2 separate regions of the Homo sapiens genome follow, and region 1 is linked to region 2. A link means that fine-mapping ties the variant in region 2 to the expression of a gene that starts in the linked region. Tissue or cell type: breast. Region 2 holds a variant in brackets; the other region holds the start of a gene. All regions are shown on one strand. Distances are from middle to middle.

What was found. PIP is the estimated chance that this variant, and not a neighbour inherited with it, causes the effect. A credible set is the group of variants that fine-mapping cannot tell apart.
Region 1: it holds the start of SLIT3-AS2, and the variant in region 2 is the best candidate, but not a certain one, in a credible set for the expression of SLIT3-AS2 in breast (GTEx, PIP 0.70).

Annotation. Positions count from the first base shown.
Region 1 is chr5:168,703,410-168,711,593 of GRCh38, reverse strand. SLIT3-AS2 (SLIT3 antisense RNA 2) reads right to left here and starts at 4,667. Exons shown (of 7, transcript NR_130737.1): 1 at 4,327-4,667; 2 at 2,947-3,157; 3 at 1,394-1,539. SLIT3 (slit guidance ligand 3) reads left to right here. Exons shown (of 36, transcript NM_003062.4): 25 at 536-699; 26 at 3,494-3,618.
Region 2 is chr5:168,554,205-168,562,388 of GRCh38, reverse strand. PANK3 (pantothenate kinase 3) reads left to right here. Exons shown (of 7, transcript NM_024594.4): 5 at 873-996; 6 at 3,232-3,357; 7 at 4,768-8,184. The coding sequence ends at 4,818. MIR103A1 (microRNA 103a-1) reads left to right here and starts at 1,416; the gene lies at 1,416-1,493. It overlaps MIR103B1 (microRNA 103b-1), which reads right to left and starts at 1,485; the gene lies at 1,424-1,485. The variant C/G (reference allele first, on the strand shown) is at 3,120.

The sequences.
Region 1 (8,184 bases), 150 kb before region 2:
TACTACGTATGCATATTCTAAAACTTTCAAAAGTAGAATTGTTAAAGGATATAATTTAAAAAAAAAAACAGAATTTCTAGTATTTTCGTCCCAGTCACAACTGGGATGAAAGTCTAGCCAAGTGGTTTGAAGCTGCTCCCTAGGTTGCTGGGTTTCAGAACCTTCTCTGCAGAGTATATCCTCCAGTGGACCCTTCAACAGGGCAAGGGAACCAGATAATCAGATGGCCAGTGATCCAGGAAGCTCCCTAAAGGAGCTAGGATGGGGTTGAGTTGAAGAGTGAGTCTTACTTGCGTAGGTGAGAGCCACGCCTCAGAAGTGGAAGGGGCTGGGATGGGAGTTGAAACTTCCACAGGATTGGAAGTACACTCTGGAGATATTAACTTTGCCACAGTGGAGACGACTACTCCGCTGGCCCCATATTGGATACCTCCAGTCTAGCCAAAGTCTGAAAATGCATTTCCAGAGAGCCAAGGATATGAAGGCTACTGGCCAAGCTGGGCAGGGGGCCCTGACTTCCTGTTCTGCCTCCTAGGGCGCTGGGAACCAACCCACTCCACTGTGACTGCAGTCTTCGGTGGCTGTCGGAGTGGGTGAAGGCGGGGTACAAGGAGCCTGGCATCGCCCGCTGCAGTAGCCCTGAGCCCATGGCTGACAGGCTCCTGCTCACCACCCCAACCCACCGCTTCCAGTGCAAAGGTAGGTGACGCCCACACCCCACCCTCCCCTGCCCCTCTTGGGGTCTGCTGTGTTCCCAGCAACCTGTCAGAGCAGGGTATCTCAACAGATGTGGCTTCAGAAACCTTCACCCTGTCTCTTCCATGGGTCCCACAAAGAGGCTCAGATGCTGACGCTGATGTGAACCCTCATCTAATGGGCCAAGTGTCATTCTCTCCAAGTTCCCTGCTGGCATTGCCACACATCTCCTCACTGACTTCTTTCTGTACATGTCTTTCCATAGTGGAGAATATCTTTTTTTTTTTTTCATCTTTTGTAGAGACAAGGTCTCACTATGTTGCACAGGCTGGTCTCAAACTCCTGATCTCCAACGATCCTCCTGTTTTGGCCCCCCAAAATGCTGGGATTACAGGCATAAGCCACTGCACCTGGCCTTGAGAAAAATCTTCAACCTGCATTTTTTAATCCAACATTATTAAAACATAAGCATTTTCCCATTTTATCCAGCAAACTTTTGTACATGTGATTTTTTTATTGATCATATTATAACAACAAACTACTACTGAGTTTGTATGCAACAGGAATGATGGTAAGCACTGTCTCATGTATTTTCTTCTCATTCTTCATGTAACAACTTATTTAATTCTCTAATACCTCTATGTGATCAACTTTTAATATTATCCTCATTTTTAAAAATGAGAAAATTGAGGCTTACCAGGCTTCCAGGTCCATCTGATTCCAGAATGCGCAGTCTTTATCACCAAGCCATAATACTCCACTGCCACTTAATCCATTTCTGGTTTTGAATCTTTCGAGTATTTCCATTTTTTTGTCTTACCATTGACACATAAAGATCTTTCTCTGTTTGAAATCATGTCCTCAGATAAGACTCAGAGAATAGAAATTACTGAATCAAAGTACATTATTATTTTTAAGGTCTTCACACATTTTGCCAAATTGATTTTCAAAAAGGGTTATAACCAATTTACATTCCCAGTAGCATCCTTTGGTTGCATTTTTCATTAGACTCTCATTATTTTCTCTTATTTTCTCATTGCTAATTCAATAGGTTAAAAAAAAAAAACTCCTTTTATTTTGTCTTTGATTATTGGGGAACCTGAATTTTTCATCAAAAACGTACTTTTCATTTGTATACACAGTTGTTTGATAATCTCTTTTGCTCATCTCTGAGAGGCTTAATACTTATTTTGATATATAGATACACTTTAATTACCCTCTCAAACTTTAGTGTGTCCTACACTTCTGCTGCAAGCAGAAAAACATTCCATTGGCTTAAAGCTAATTTTAATTTTCCTCCTCCTGCTTCTAAGCTATCTGATCTGATACTAAAGAGGCTCACCTAGGCCAAGAACAGTATAGGTCTCAATCTTGGCTGCACATTTGGACATCATACAGGAGCTTTTAAAATTACTGAAGCCTGGCTCCACCCTCTAGGTTTAGATTAAATTGGTCTGGGGTACAACCTGGGTGTGGGGACTTTTAAAAGCACTGCAGCCAGGGTCCGGGCACGGTGGCTCATGCCTCTAATCCCAGTACTTTGGGAGGCTGAGGCGGGCAGATCACTTGAGGTCAGGAGTTCAAGACCAGTCTGCCCAACAAGGGGAAACCCCATCTCTACTAAAAATACAAAAATTAGCCAGGTGTGGTGGCGCATGCTTGTAATCCCAGCTACTTGGGAGGCTGAGGCAGAACTGCTTGAATCCAGGAGGTGGAGGTTGCTGTGAGCCGAAATTGCACCACCACACTCCAGCCTGGGCAACAGAGTGAGACTCCATCTCAAAAAAAAAAAAAAACAAACAGAAAACAACACTGTAGCTGGTAGTGTAAGGCAGCTAAGTCATCTGGGTTTTGTCTGGGCCATTCTTGGTTTTAGCACTGAAAGCTCTGTGTCCTGCAAACCCCCTCAGCCCCAAGCAAACCAAGACAGATAGTCTTCCTCTTCTAATGTGAAGTCGGGTTGAGCCCCTGGTACCAGCTCTCAATCAGGCCATTCTTTTTACTCATCCACAAACAGTCACTCACTGAAGTTCATCTCAGCCCATCTCCAAGTTGATAACTGTTAACCCCAAGGTCATTTATAGTCCTGACACTAAATATGGCCTGTTTATCCAGGGCTCATTGTCAAAGCTGGCTGCAGCAGCAGGACACAGCCCCCTTTGCAAAGCTCTGGGAAGGACCCTGACCTCCCTCCAGTGCTCGCAGCTAAAGCAAGCACACGGCTGAAACGGTCACAGACGTAACATGTACCTGAGCAGTTTTCTGTCCATTGTCAGCATCATCGCTGTGTCCTCTGGGGCCATCCATTTCTTTCTTCCAAGGTTTTCCAGGGGGGACTTCCTCTGTGTGCCTTTGGCCCAAGCACTGTGCCCTGCTTAGCCTGGCACAGACTATTCCATGGGGAGGGGTGTTTGTGGGTAGAAAAATGGGAGGTCCGAATGGAGCCTGGGCCCAGAGCTTCCTGGAATATGAAAAGATACACAGGGGGTTTCTAATTATGGTGCATTGTTTGCAGATTAGCACCAAAATCGGATCAGGCTAATTACAGTAATTGATTTGACTGCAGAAGTGTTTCTGAATGATGTCCCACTGTGATTTTTCCTCACTGGACAGTGGCTGAATTAATGGGACTCTAGCTGGACTGGATGTGCTGGCTGAGGAGAGCCAGCTGCCATCTGGGCATGGAGTTGGGAAGGGGCTGGCGCTGGCTGAGGGAGGGCCCAGAGCAGAGGGGAAGGGAGGTATGGCAGTGAGCGCACTCAGGACCTGCCATCAGTACTCTGGTTTTGCTGCCCAGGGCCAGTGGACATCAACATTGTGGCCAAATGCAATGCCTGCCTCTCCAGCCCGTGCAAGAATAACGGGACATGCACCCAGGACCCTGTGGAGCTGTACCGCTGTGCCTGCCCCTACAGCTACAAGGTATGCTGGAGGCCCTGCCCCCCCGTGTTCATGCCTCAGGCTCCTCCTTCAGCCCTGGCCCTAGAGAGGGGCACCATGCCCTGCGTACCCTCCCTTCTCCAAGGGACAGCCTGGATGAGTCCATCGCACAGGTCACCACTCCAAAGCAGCATTTGCCAGTAACACTGTTCTCTGAACTAGCGGGAGCTGCCAGTCAGAGAGGCCCCCATATGGTCTTGACAAGGATGTCCAGAGAGAAAGAGGAAATGTAACATTTGTATTTTCTTTGTGAAACATGGAGAAATTAAGTCTCAGAGAAAAAGTGTTTCCAAGTAGAGGCATCCCTTGAGCCCACTCTCCCAATTTCCCTTCTAAAGGGATTTCCAGAACCTCCACCCCACCATGCCCCTGCCAAACCCCACCCTCAGAGCAACCAGCCTTGAAAGTGCTGGTTCCAGCTTGATGTAAATATAGGGATTGGGGATTGAAAGGCCTAGGGGCTGCAAACTCACCCAAAAGGTTGATCGGCTAAGATCAGCCAGCAAGAGGATGAGATCCCAGTTCTCCCCTCTGTCCTCCCAGACTACCTCCAAGACAGTCCTTCCTTCTTTCACCCAGAGCACGGTGTCATGCCCCTCTGCTGACCCCTGTGGATATCGACCATGTGCCTCTCACCAGCACCTACCGAGTACAGACTGTGCCAAGTACTGTGCTTGGCATTTTACTCACCTGTTCAAACACCCCCAGCAAACCTAAGAAGGCCTCATTATTCCCTTTTTACGGATATGGAGACTGGGCCTCAGACTGTCAAGAGTTCAACTCAATGTCCGAAGCTTGTAAGCAGTAGAGCTGTGATTAAGACCCTGGGCTTTGTGATTCCAGAACCCAATCCTTTTCCCCTGGAGGGTTTCCTGGATAGCTGAGCCCTTCCTTGGGCTTCACTGGAATCAGCAAAGCTGTGGCTCCATCCTCTTCTGCAGGGCCCGCCCAGCTTCCAGCCTTCCCAGGGCACCCATCCAAAGGCACTGGGCAAGCGCAGAGTTTCAGGACAGCCCCACAGCCTGTCTAATGCACACATCTGATGCAGGTGGAGTGAGAGTGAGCTGGCATCCCCAGGTCTCTGCCCCCAGTGGGATTGTGTGTGCGTAGTGACAGGCTTAGAGGCAGCCTCATTCTGGGGAATGGGACTACCTGATGTATTTCTAGACGATGGCTGTGCTTCTAGCAGATGGTGTCAGAGTGCCACCTATGGGCCTGGGACAAGAGAGCCAAAGGATTCCCTTTGAAGCCAGCCACCTCCAAAGTCTTAAACTTACCACTGAGTCCCAGACCCATACACCGTCATTTCATAAGCTGATTATAAAAATCAGAGAAGAGACTAAATGCATAAGGTCCAGATGAGTGCCTGGCCTTTACTGATGATTCAAAAGAGAACTATACTATGTATGGAATTGAGAATGTTATAAATTCAGTCACAGGGCACCCACACACACAAAAAAAATAATAGGAGGGGAGAATAGAGATTAACAGCAGACATACTCAGGATGTGTGGATCCTCTCAAACTCCCTTGTATGGATTCAGCAGAGAAAATTCAGACTGTGCAATTACACAGAGAAGCAGGTGTGGATTCCAGCTTTGTCATTTACTAGCTGTGTAGCCATTGCTAGTAATTTCATCTGTCTTCCCAGCTGCAAACTAGGACCTGTCTCATAGGTTTGCCGTAAGAATCAAATGTACAGTAATGTACGCAATACACTAGGATGATACCTGGCATTCAGTGAGCACTCAATAAGCTGGCATACTGCTGCCTTTCACCTTTACCCTTGCATGGTGGTCCCTCATACCTGGGTGTGGAATAGGCCATCAGTAACAGGTGGTATGTTGCTAGTTTGATCCAGGATTATCAGTCTATGGCACTGTGAACTGCCAAGAAACTTCAGTCATTCTCCTAGAACTGTGACTGCATTTGTAACATTCTCAATTCCATACATAGTATAGTTCTCTTTTGAATCATCAATAAAGGCCAGGCACTCATCTGGAGCTTATGCATTTATTTTCTTCTCTGATTTTTATAATCAGCTTATGAGATGGGTAGTATCATCCCCATTCTAAAGATAAGGTAAACTGTTTCACATTCTGATTCTTGCTTCCTTCTCTTTAAAACTGGCCTGAGTCTGAAAGTAGTAGAGCTGGGTTTGAAGTCCAGGCTTCTTCCAGCTACACTTGACTGTACTATGAAGCATGACCTGACCGTCAGTGTCAGAGCAAAGAGAGTATCTTCAGAGCTACTGCAGGATAAGGCCACTTGTTTGAACTTTGTTCTCAAGATTCTGAACATCATGTCAATTTTAGAAGAATGTGAACAGAGATTTTGATCTTGAGGAAAGTGTTGAGCCCAGGCAGGTCTAGGGTGCATGATGTTGATGGTGATGGTGAAGATGATGATGGTGAAGGTGATGATGGTGATGGTATCGGTGATGATGACAAAGGTGACAATGGTGATGGTGTTGATGATGGTAATGGTGCTAATGGTACAGATGGTGGTGATGATGATGATAACTATGATAATAACAGTAACATAAGAGCCAGCATTTATTGAGTATCTACTATGTACTGACAGTAGACTAAATAAGGTACATGTATTATCTTGCATACTCCTCATCAGAGCCCTAGAATACAGTTCCTAAAATGACCCTCATTTTACAGTTGAAGAAACTGAGCATGGTAGGTAAGGGAGTTGGGATTCAAAGCTCAGAACCAACTGACTCTAGAAGCTGTGCTCCTGGCCACTGCACTCACTGCCTGTTGGCAAGTGCAGTGATTGCAGGGGCTAAGGTGGAAGATCCCTGACTATTTAGGACCTGTCTGAATTTCCAGGTTAGAGACAAGTAGAGTGTAGCCATGGGAAGAACACCAAGCAGGACCCTCTGGAGCCTGTGCCTATGTGATGCATGACCTTGGACAGAACTCGCTCTTCTCCTCACCTCAGTTTCCTCAGCTGTAAAATGGAGGAGGTTGAACCCAAGGGATCCTTTAACTGAGGGTTGCATCAAATTCTCTGTGCTATGTCCCTGCTTTCCTTCTTGCCGGGGTTAGAGCCCGCCCAAACAGAGCGACTAAGATGGTAGTTCTGCATGAGTGGCTAACAGAAATCCCCAGATACCCACAAAACCAAGCTCAAAGTTCAGGCATTTACCTCTTTCCAGGTATCTCCATTTTCCCATTGACTAGCTGAGTGACCTTGGGAAGCCACAATATTATAAAAAAGCACAGGAATCACTGTGTAACATTTGGTAGCAGCTACTCTTAATCTACTATAATGCCAGGCCTTTGTGAAGCAGTTTAAACACATTATCTCTTGTAGTACTCTTAATCACCTTGTGAAATAAGTTTTATTATCGTCTTTTAATAGATGAAACAACTAAGGTTCAGAAAGATGAAATAATTTACCCAAGCTCTCACACTTAGGAAGTGCATGAGCTACAACCAGAGCTCAGCTATCTCTTGCAACAAAGTCTCTACACTCACAACCACTCCAAGTCAGATTCTCCCTAAGCCTCACTTTCCCCACCTGTAACTGAGAATACTCATACTCATGTGCAGGGCTGTTGGAAGGATGAAAAGGGGCTGTGTGTGTACTTTGCCTACCTCAGTGCCAGGATTCAGTAGATACTTCACAAAGGGTCAGTATTTTGCCATTATGTTAAGATTTGGGGAAAAAATATATCTGTTGGCTGATTCTTTTTCAGCCATTTAGTTTCAGGCACATATGTTCAATGTCTCAGAACAGTGCTTCTCAAACTTTTGTGTGCATAAGAATCACTGGAGAGCTTATTAAAATGCAAGTTCTAGTTCATTAGATCCGAGGTCAGGCCTGAGAGTGTGCATTTTTTTTTTTTAATCAGCTCCCAGGACATGCCAGTGCCACTAGTCCAAGGAGCACGCTTTGAGAAGTAAGGACTTAGCAGCATTCCTCGTGCGATCTCAGAAAGAGGTTTCCAATGAGGGCAGCTGTTCCCAGTGTCTTTTTTTTTTTTTTTTTTTTTTTTTTGGAGACAGAGTCTCACTCCGTTGCCAGGCTGGAGTGCAGTGGCATAATCTCGGCTCACTGCAACCTCTGCTTCCTGGGTTCAAGCAATTCTCCTGCCTCAGACTCCTGAGTAGCTGGGATGCCCACCACCACGCCCAGCTAATTTTTGTATTTTTAGTAGATACAGGGTTTCACCATGTTGGCCAGGATGTTCTCAATCTCTTGACCTTGTGATCCGCCCACGCTGGCCTCCCAAAGTGCTGGGATTATAGGCGTGAGGCACTGCGCCCAGCCCCCAGTGTCTTTTAAAGGTTGATTCCCAACCTTTTTGGCACCAGGGACCAGTTTCATGGAAGACAGTTTTTCCACGGAACTAGGGTGGTGGGCATGGTCTCAGGATGAAACTGTACCACCTCAGATCATCAGGTATTAGTTAGATTCTCATAAGGAGCGTGCAACCTAGATCCCTCGCATGCACAGTTCACAGTAGGGTGTGTGCTCCTATGAGAATCTAACGCCACGGCTGACCTGAAAGGAGGCGGAGCTCAGGTGGTAA
Region 2 (8,184 bases):
TTAACCTTTAGTTGCCTCTGCCTAAGATTTTTCTTCTCATTTTTTCTGGCTTTTTCTGGTCCTTTTGCTCTGAAAGCCCTGCCTCATACCTTCTTAACTTTTTTCTCTTACCACTGTAATAAAAGATATTTTTTTGTTTGTATTTCCAAGGTTAGCCTTTGTTTGGGGTTAGCCTTTGTTTGGATTTTTTCCCTGTTACTGTTAGCGCTTCTCTTGCTGTCTTTTGTATGTAGGCCTGCATTGTCCATTACAGTAGCCTCTAGCCACGTAAGGCACTTGGCTTATGAGTGCCACATGTTGAATTGATGATATTTGGATATATTGGCTTAAATGAAATGTACAATTAAAATTAATTTCACTTGTTTATTTTTACCTTTTTAATGTGGCTAATAGAACATATATGAAATTATATATTACTCGTATTTTATTTCTATTGGACAGTGCTGCACTAGACTAATTCACTGTTTGAGGGACTATCTGTCTCCAGCACAAAGCTTGGTATGTCATAAATGTTTCTTGTGACTGAATGAAAAAGAATTTGAAGTTAAAGCTGAGATACTTTTGGAAACATTTTGTAATTTTGGCTAATTTGTTTTGAATCAGGTTTAAGTGAAGATATTTTGGTAATCTTTGCTTTCTTATAATAACTAACTATGCTTTTTTTGAGATGTCATTTTAACCTTAATTCTTTGAAAGGTATTACTTTACTCTTGCATAGATTTTTTTTGTTAGTTTGTTTTGATCTTATCCCTATGTGTTTCTACTTTTTGGTCCTAATTTTATAAAAATATCCAGGTTGTAGATATATCTGTTAATACGTAAAATGTTGCTTTTTATCAGCAGATTTGACTTTATTTTTCATTTTTCTGCAGTTTTGGGAATATGATTTATAAGGAGAAGCGAGAATCTGTTAGTAAAGAAGATCTGGCAAGAGCTACTTTAGTTACTATCACCAATAACATTGGTTCTGTGGCACGAATGTGTGCTGTTAATGAGGTAAAAAAACAAAAAACACAAAACTTGAATTATCAAAAATGTGAATTGGAGTCCTATATACACCTAGCAGGGCTTCTTCACTTTCCCTAAGGAGGCCTCTGGGATTGAGATGTAACCCATTAAATGCCAAGACTCATTAGGTATATATGTTACGTATCCAGTTGCTATATTACTTTTAAAGAAAGTAGCAGATAATTCAAATTGAAATAGGAGAAATTTATTCAGAATTTTTTTTCAGAAAAACACAACCTAAATCCCTTGAGGATGTAAAAGAAAGTTCTAAGCATAAGACATTTTGAGATACTTTGTGAAAGCATTTTTTTTAGTCTTAATTTTGCATTTGGAAGGCAGCTATGCTCACCACTATACCACCAGTGCTTAATGTTGCATTTGATTAGTGAAATTCTTGGAAGTTTTCTTACTGCCCTCGGCTTCTTTACAGTGCTGCCTTGTTGCATATGGATCAAGCAGCATTGTACAGGGCTATGAAGGCATTGAGACCTGTTCTTCATGATATTTGAGTGGTGTTTATTGTTACAAGAAAAGTGTGAAAAGGATATACTGTTAGATTGACCATATAGTTGGGATTCTTTGTTTGGAAGAGAATATATATATTTAATTCTAGCTTCCTTATATAATAATAGATATATTTGCCCGTTTAATTTTTATAAATATCAAATACTTTAAATGGATTGGGAAGTACGCTTTTCGAAGGAACCCTTCATTTGTTCATTCATTCATTTATTCATTGAGTAAATATTTACTGATTACCAGATGCCAGACATCGTTCTGGGTATTTGGAACATATTAATGAAGAAAACAAAGATCTGGCTTTGTGGAGCTTGCATTCATTCTAGTGACATATTAAGTAAATTGTGTAGTGTGTATTAGGTGATAAGTGCTATTTTTTTAAAAAGAGACCATCAAACAGGATAAAGAGGATTGGGAATAGGGCAGAGAGTGGTAGAGGACAAATTGCTAAGTAATTGAGTGGTTAAAGGAAAGCTTTATTGAAAATGTGATTCTTAGGCAGAGGTTTGAAGGAGGTGAGGGGGAAACTGTGCATGTAGACATTTTGGGGAGAAAGCTTCCAGCAGAGAGAACAAATATGCAAATCCTCTGAATTATTCTGTATTTAAATCCAGAACTTGGTCTCATCAGTTTTTTAATAACTTAGAAACTTAAGTGTTAGTTGGTTGATGGAGTTACTAGTAGACCATGTTGGGAGCTGACAACAATTTGAGACCTTTATTCTTAGCCCTTTATGTCTAAATTTCCACTGACCAATTGAGTTAACAATAATTTAGGCCATGGTTTACAGTATCCCAACTTATGTACAAAGATTTCTACTCAAAAGTCAGTATAGTGTGAGAGTCGAAATAAGTTTTCTGGTGATTCAAACACCAGTTCCCCTTTGTAAGATTTCCTAATCATAGAGATAATCTAAGAAACCAAATTAGTGTGGAATCTTTGCAGAGAGAGAATGATTTGATGAATCAGGCAGGGGACGGAGAAAGAATGCTAGAATCCTAGGGGAATGCACATGCCAGTACCCCAGTCAGTATTACTCTCCAATTCTGTAGAATCCACAGTTGCATGTCATTGTTCAACATGCATTGCAATGTGTGGGCCAAGTTTGCTACTTATCAACTAAATGCATTTTATAGTACTTACCATGTTTTGATTTTTTTTTTTAATCACATCAGTAATGTGTCTCCAAATGACTTTGTAAGGGGGCTATTTATTGGCCATTTTCAAAAACAAATCTCACCTGAAATCATCTGCTAGAGTCTTTCTGGAACCTTTTTTTAAAAGTAGACTTTATTTTTTAGATCAGTTTCAGGTTCACGTAAAATTAAGTGGAAAGCTCAGTGAGTTCCCATATACCACCTTCCATACACACACAGCCCACTTCCATCCTCAGCATCCCATAGTAGAGTGATCATGTGTTACAGTCCATAACCCTGTGCACACATCATCATCACCCAAAGTCCATAATTTAGGGTTCTCTCTTGGTGTTACACATTTTGTGGATTTTGGATGATGTGTGCAGAACTAATTTTTAAATATTCAGGATTATACAGCTATATGCCAGGAATGTAGTAGGTGTTATACTAATAAAG[C/G]GTAGTTGTGTTTTTTTGCATTTTAAAATAAATTTTAAATAAATATTTAGAAACCTTTTATATTGTAAAATCTATTATTTTTACAAGTTTTTTCTTTGTTCTTTTCTTTTAGAAAATAAACAGAGTTGTCTTTGTTGGAAACTTTTTACGTGTCAATACCCTCTCAATGAAACTTTTGGCATATGCACTGGATTACTGGTCAAAAGGTCAACTAAAAGCATTGTTTCTAGAACATGAGGTATGGTAGGAAAATGTTTTTTGTGAATTTTAATAGCATGTTTTTTAAGAGACAGGGTCTTGCTCTGTCACTCAGGCTTGAGTTTAGTGGCACAATGATGGCTTACTGCAGCCTCTTCCTCCTGGGCTCATCAATCCTCCCACCTCAGCCTCCCAAGTAGCTGGGACCACAGGTATGCACCACTGTGCCCAGAAAATTTATTTTTATTAATATTTTTTGTGGAGACAGGATCACTCTTTGTTGCCCAGGCTAGTCTGGAACTCCTGGCCTCAAGCAATCCTTTATAGGTGTGAGCCACCATGCCCAGCCTTAAGTAGTAGAATATTGGTTCCTTCGCTTCAGTTTCAGTTGTGGGGAAGAGAATTACAATAACCTGTTAGGCACCCCCAGATTTTTTTGTATTCATTTACTACATGCAGTTAAGTTCTGATCTGAGCAATTATCAGTCCACATAATGTTTTGGATTAACTTAACTTGAATCATTTTGTGATCAAAGTCAAATGGCTGTATCATTACAAATTAGTAACAGAGATTCAAATTATTCTGCTCTTAAAAGCTTCCATGTCTTGGCCGGGTGCGGTGGCTCATGCCTGTAATCCCAGCACTTTGGGAGGCCAAGGCGGACGGATCACGAGGTCAGGAGATCAAGACCATCCTGGCTAACAACGGTGAAACCCCGTCTCTACTAAAAATACAAAAAAAAATTAGCCGGGCGAGGTGGCGGGCGCCTGTAATCCCAGCGACTCGGGAGGCTGAGGCAGGAGAATGGTGTGAACCCCAGGGGGCGGAGCCTGCAGTGAGTCGAGATGGCGCCACTGCACTCCAGCCACTCCAGCCTGGGTGATAGCGAGACTGTCTAAAAAAAAAAAAAAAAAAAAGCTTCCATGTCTCATTGTCACTGCTCACACAATACAAATCAGAATGGTGTGCCCTTGTGCAATTCCACATGGCATGCAGTGAGAGTGTCAGGCACAGCCACAGGAAGTTAGTTTGTTTTATTAAGTAAAGGGGAGAGGGTGCAGAATTGCTGTTACAGTCCTGGAAGCTTTAGTGTCTAAAGGCCACACTTTTAGAATACGTATTTCAGTGTGAGCCTATAGTCCCAGCTATTCAAGAGGCTGAGATGGGAGGACCATGTGAGCCCAGGAATTCAAGGCCAGCCTGGGCAAAATAGTGAGACCATGTCTCTAAAAATAATAATAATAAATAAAAATACATATTTCAAAGGTGTGTAGACATCAAGAATACAGATTCAGAAAATTTTTTATAATAGCTAACAACGCAGAAATTGGTAGGTTTCCAAATATTATTAAACAAATAGATTGTGCATAGTTGTGTGTTCTCAAGTGGTTAATATTATATGCTAACTTAAAAGCTGTACTACATAACAGTTATTTTTAAATTACACAGGGTTACTTTGGAGCAGTTGGTGCACTTCTTGGGCTGCCAAATTTCAGCTAAAGCATCAGGTCTCTCTCTCTGCTAATAAATGTCATCCAAGAGGAACTAAAACCAGAGGCATTATTACTGCATTGTTTGTCACTGGGAACCAAAGGATAAAAGAGTAGCATAAGCTGCTGAATGTTGCCATATTAAAGGAGAGAACTTGGTAACGTGAAGTATTTCTCATTGAAATGCTTTCCCTTTTGTATATAGCCAGTGTTAAATCCTTAAATGCAATACAGCCTCTGATTATTGAGCTTCCTCTTAAAAAGATTTTTTTATTTTATGTAGCCAACATTGCAGTACTGTATGCTCAAACACAAATCTTAAAGTATCGGAACTGTTTAGCTTATGAAAATAATCGACTCTGAATATTTGTTACAAGTCTGTTTTATGTGTTTTGATTACTAGTGAGCAGAAAATAACATACCCTGTATTCAAAATTACTGAAATGGCAATCAAAGATGATCATTTTTATGTGATTTTAGAAATGTTAAGGCAATACTACTAATTATTGTAGGTTTTTTTAACGTATCACCCAAAGCATGTATGTGATCTTTCCCCATTAGTATCTTTTTCTCAAATGCCATAATTAACTGAAATACTATTATTAAATTTTCATGAGAATTCTAAAATGAATCCTGGGAAATGCACGTTTGGTGATGTTGCACTTTCTGTATTTTACAGGAATTAGTCAATACATGTTGAAATGTTTAACATTTTAAGATTGGAGGCTTAATTACTGGGAGTCTGTCTAATGAAGTCCTGGGACTATTGTAATGGAATATGATTTGAGTTCACTGTGCTCTTTTTGTTTGTTTGTTTTGGTCATATATACATTCAGAACTTTTATTTTAAAACAACCACAATAACATTAATAATAGAAAATTCATCTGTAAATATTCACAGTCTAGTCACTGAAAAATGGGAAAACCTCTACCATGCCTTATTATTACCCTTTGCTGTTTGAGGAGCCAGAAATAGAGGTGCAGTTAGAGGACGGTCACTTTTTCCAACAAAACCCACTCCATAGCCATGTGGATTTTTATCCAAAGGCTCAACAACCAGAGGGAATGGTGAGACCTGATAACTAAAATACTGTTATTGGCAAGGGTTTGAAATGTGTAAGAACCTAGGAGGGAAAGGAAGATTGAGCAACATAGGAAAAGGGGAAGAGAGGCTGAGTGTCACCAAGGTCCAAACTCCATTTATAAAAATACTGCAAAACCAGGAGTTGATGGTAGAAATGCATATGATCCATGGCAGGAGTAAATCTCTCCACCTCCTCTAACTCTCTGAAAACTCTAGAGTTGGAGCAAGTCTTCCATTTGCTTCTTATCCCCTTAAAAGAATGCCTTCCACTTCCCAACAGCCCCCATCAAGGGACCCCAAGAGGCCACCATGCTCTTATCTCGCACTTTCTTTCCTATTCCCCTTGCCTGAATCTGGAGTGGGGTTGAGCCCTCTGCCTTCAACCTTAAGATTTAGGAAGTTCTTTCCCCAACTGTCTAACTTGGAAAGGTAGATGAGTCTGAATTTTGAAGTAACGAATGCAAATTCCACTCAGCAGAGGCAATGTTATTTATGTACATAGGGATAGTGGAATGAGTTTTAATAGATTCTGTCCAAAAGGGGTTTGTTCCTCTTATTTCCTCTATGTAGGAAGTTGTGTCTTAGGCAACTTTATCAGTATCAATGGAAAAATGATAGGCACTACAATGAAATGGCAGGATGCCAATATGAGATATTTCAGGAATAATAAGAAATACAGTTTGTTTGTATAAAATAAACTATCTCAAGAAAGTTTTCAACGACAGTGATAGTGTTCATTTGTAAGAGAGAGTTCTAGAACTTCGATGTCCAGTGCAGTAGCCACTACCCATATGTAGCTGTTGAGCATTTGAAATATGGTTAGTCCAAATTGAGATGTGCTCTAAAGGACAATAAAAGGTTAAATATCTCCTAATTTTTTGTATTGATTACATGTTGAAATGTTAACATTGGAAATATTGGGTTAAAGAAAAATACACAATTAAAATGAATCTTGGCCAGGCGCAGTGGCTCACGCCTCTAATCCCAGCACTTTGAGAGGCCAGGGTGGGCAGGTCACCTGAGGTCAGGAGTTCGAGACCAGCCTGGCCAGTGTGGCAAAACCCTGCCTACTAAAAATACAAAAATTAGCCAGGCATGGTGGTGCGCACCTGTAGTCCCAGCTACTTGGGAGGCTGAGGCAGGAGAATTGCTTGAACCCAGGAGGAGGAGGCTGCAGTGAGCTGAGATTGTGCCACTGCACTCCAGCCTGGGCGACAGAGTGAGACTCTGTCTCAAAAAAAAGAATCATCTGTTTCCAATTATTTTTAAATGTGCTTACTAGAAAAGATAAAATCACACATGGTTTACATTTTATTTCTATTAAGACAGCACCGTTAAGAACATAGAGCTTTGAGGAATTGTGGTATTAGAACCAAATCTATTTACCACAGTGAGCTTACAGGGAGTTACTCGAGATCTTAATAAAAAATTATAATCTTTGGCAGCCTTCATTATGATTTTGTGTTCTTATTATTCCAGTACCTCTAGATTACATATGGGAAAAGCTAAAGAGCCACAGTGGTGAGATGGTTGCTCACTCTAGCAGGTAATTTCAGTTTGAAAGGATAAAATATATGAATCATAGTTCACATTAACCAAAGTACAGTGATGAAATAACTTAGACTCTGACCATTCCATTTTTTCTTAAAGATTGCCCTAAATCTATAGATGCTAATACAGTATTTGCCACAGGTATAAAACTTGTAGTTACTGTCATTCAATTAAGATTCTTATCTGTACAGATATACAAATCAGAAACTTTTAAAATAAATTGAACTAATGGAATTTTGGCTCCAATATTTAGTCACTACAATGGAAATATTAAAGCAAGGAACATGAAGTCATTGTAGGGTTTTAAAATGGCTACTGACTGACATGAATTCAGAGTTTCAAACAGTCTAAATTCTAAAAACTTAACTTTACACGCTTTTCCTCCTAAATAACCACTCTAATAATTCATACATTCATATCTTCAGGTAAAGAAAACTGAATTTTAAACAATTGAGGCTGGGTGCAGTGGCTCATGCCTGTAATCGAATATAAGGACTTGAGTATAAAATTTGAAAACTACATGGGGAAATGTCTTTATCATGCATCTCTTGATAGTCTACTGAAAACTATTAAGTAAACCTGCGGTCTGTAAACAAAAAAACCCATAGTGATACTTACCTTGTGTAATGTAAACAATTTTTTAAGCTCTTTAAAGTACATCTAGATTTACTGGTAATGTATAGAAGTCAATTTTATCCCCAAGCATTTCTACTTCCTAAACCATTAGCAAGAGTCTCAAAA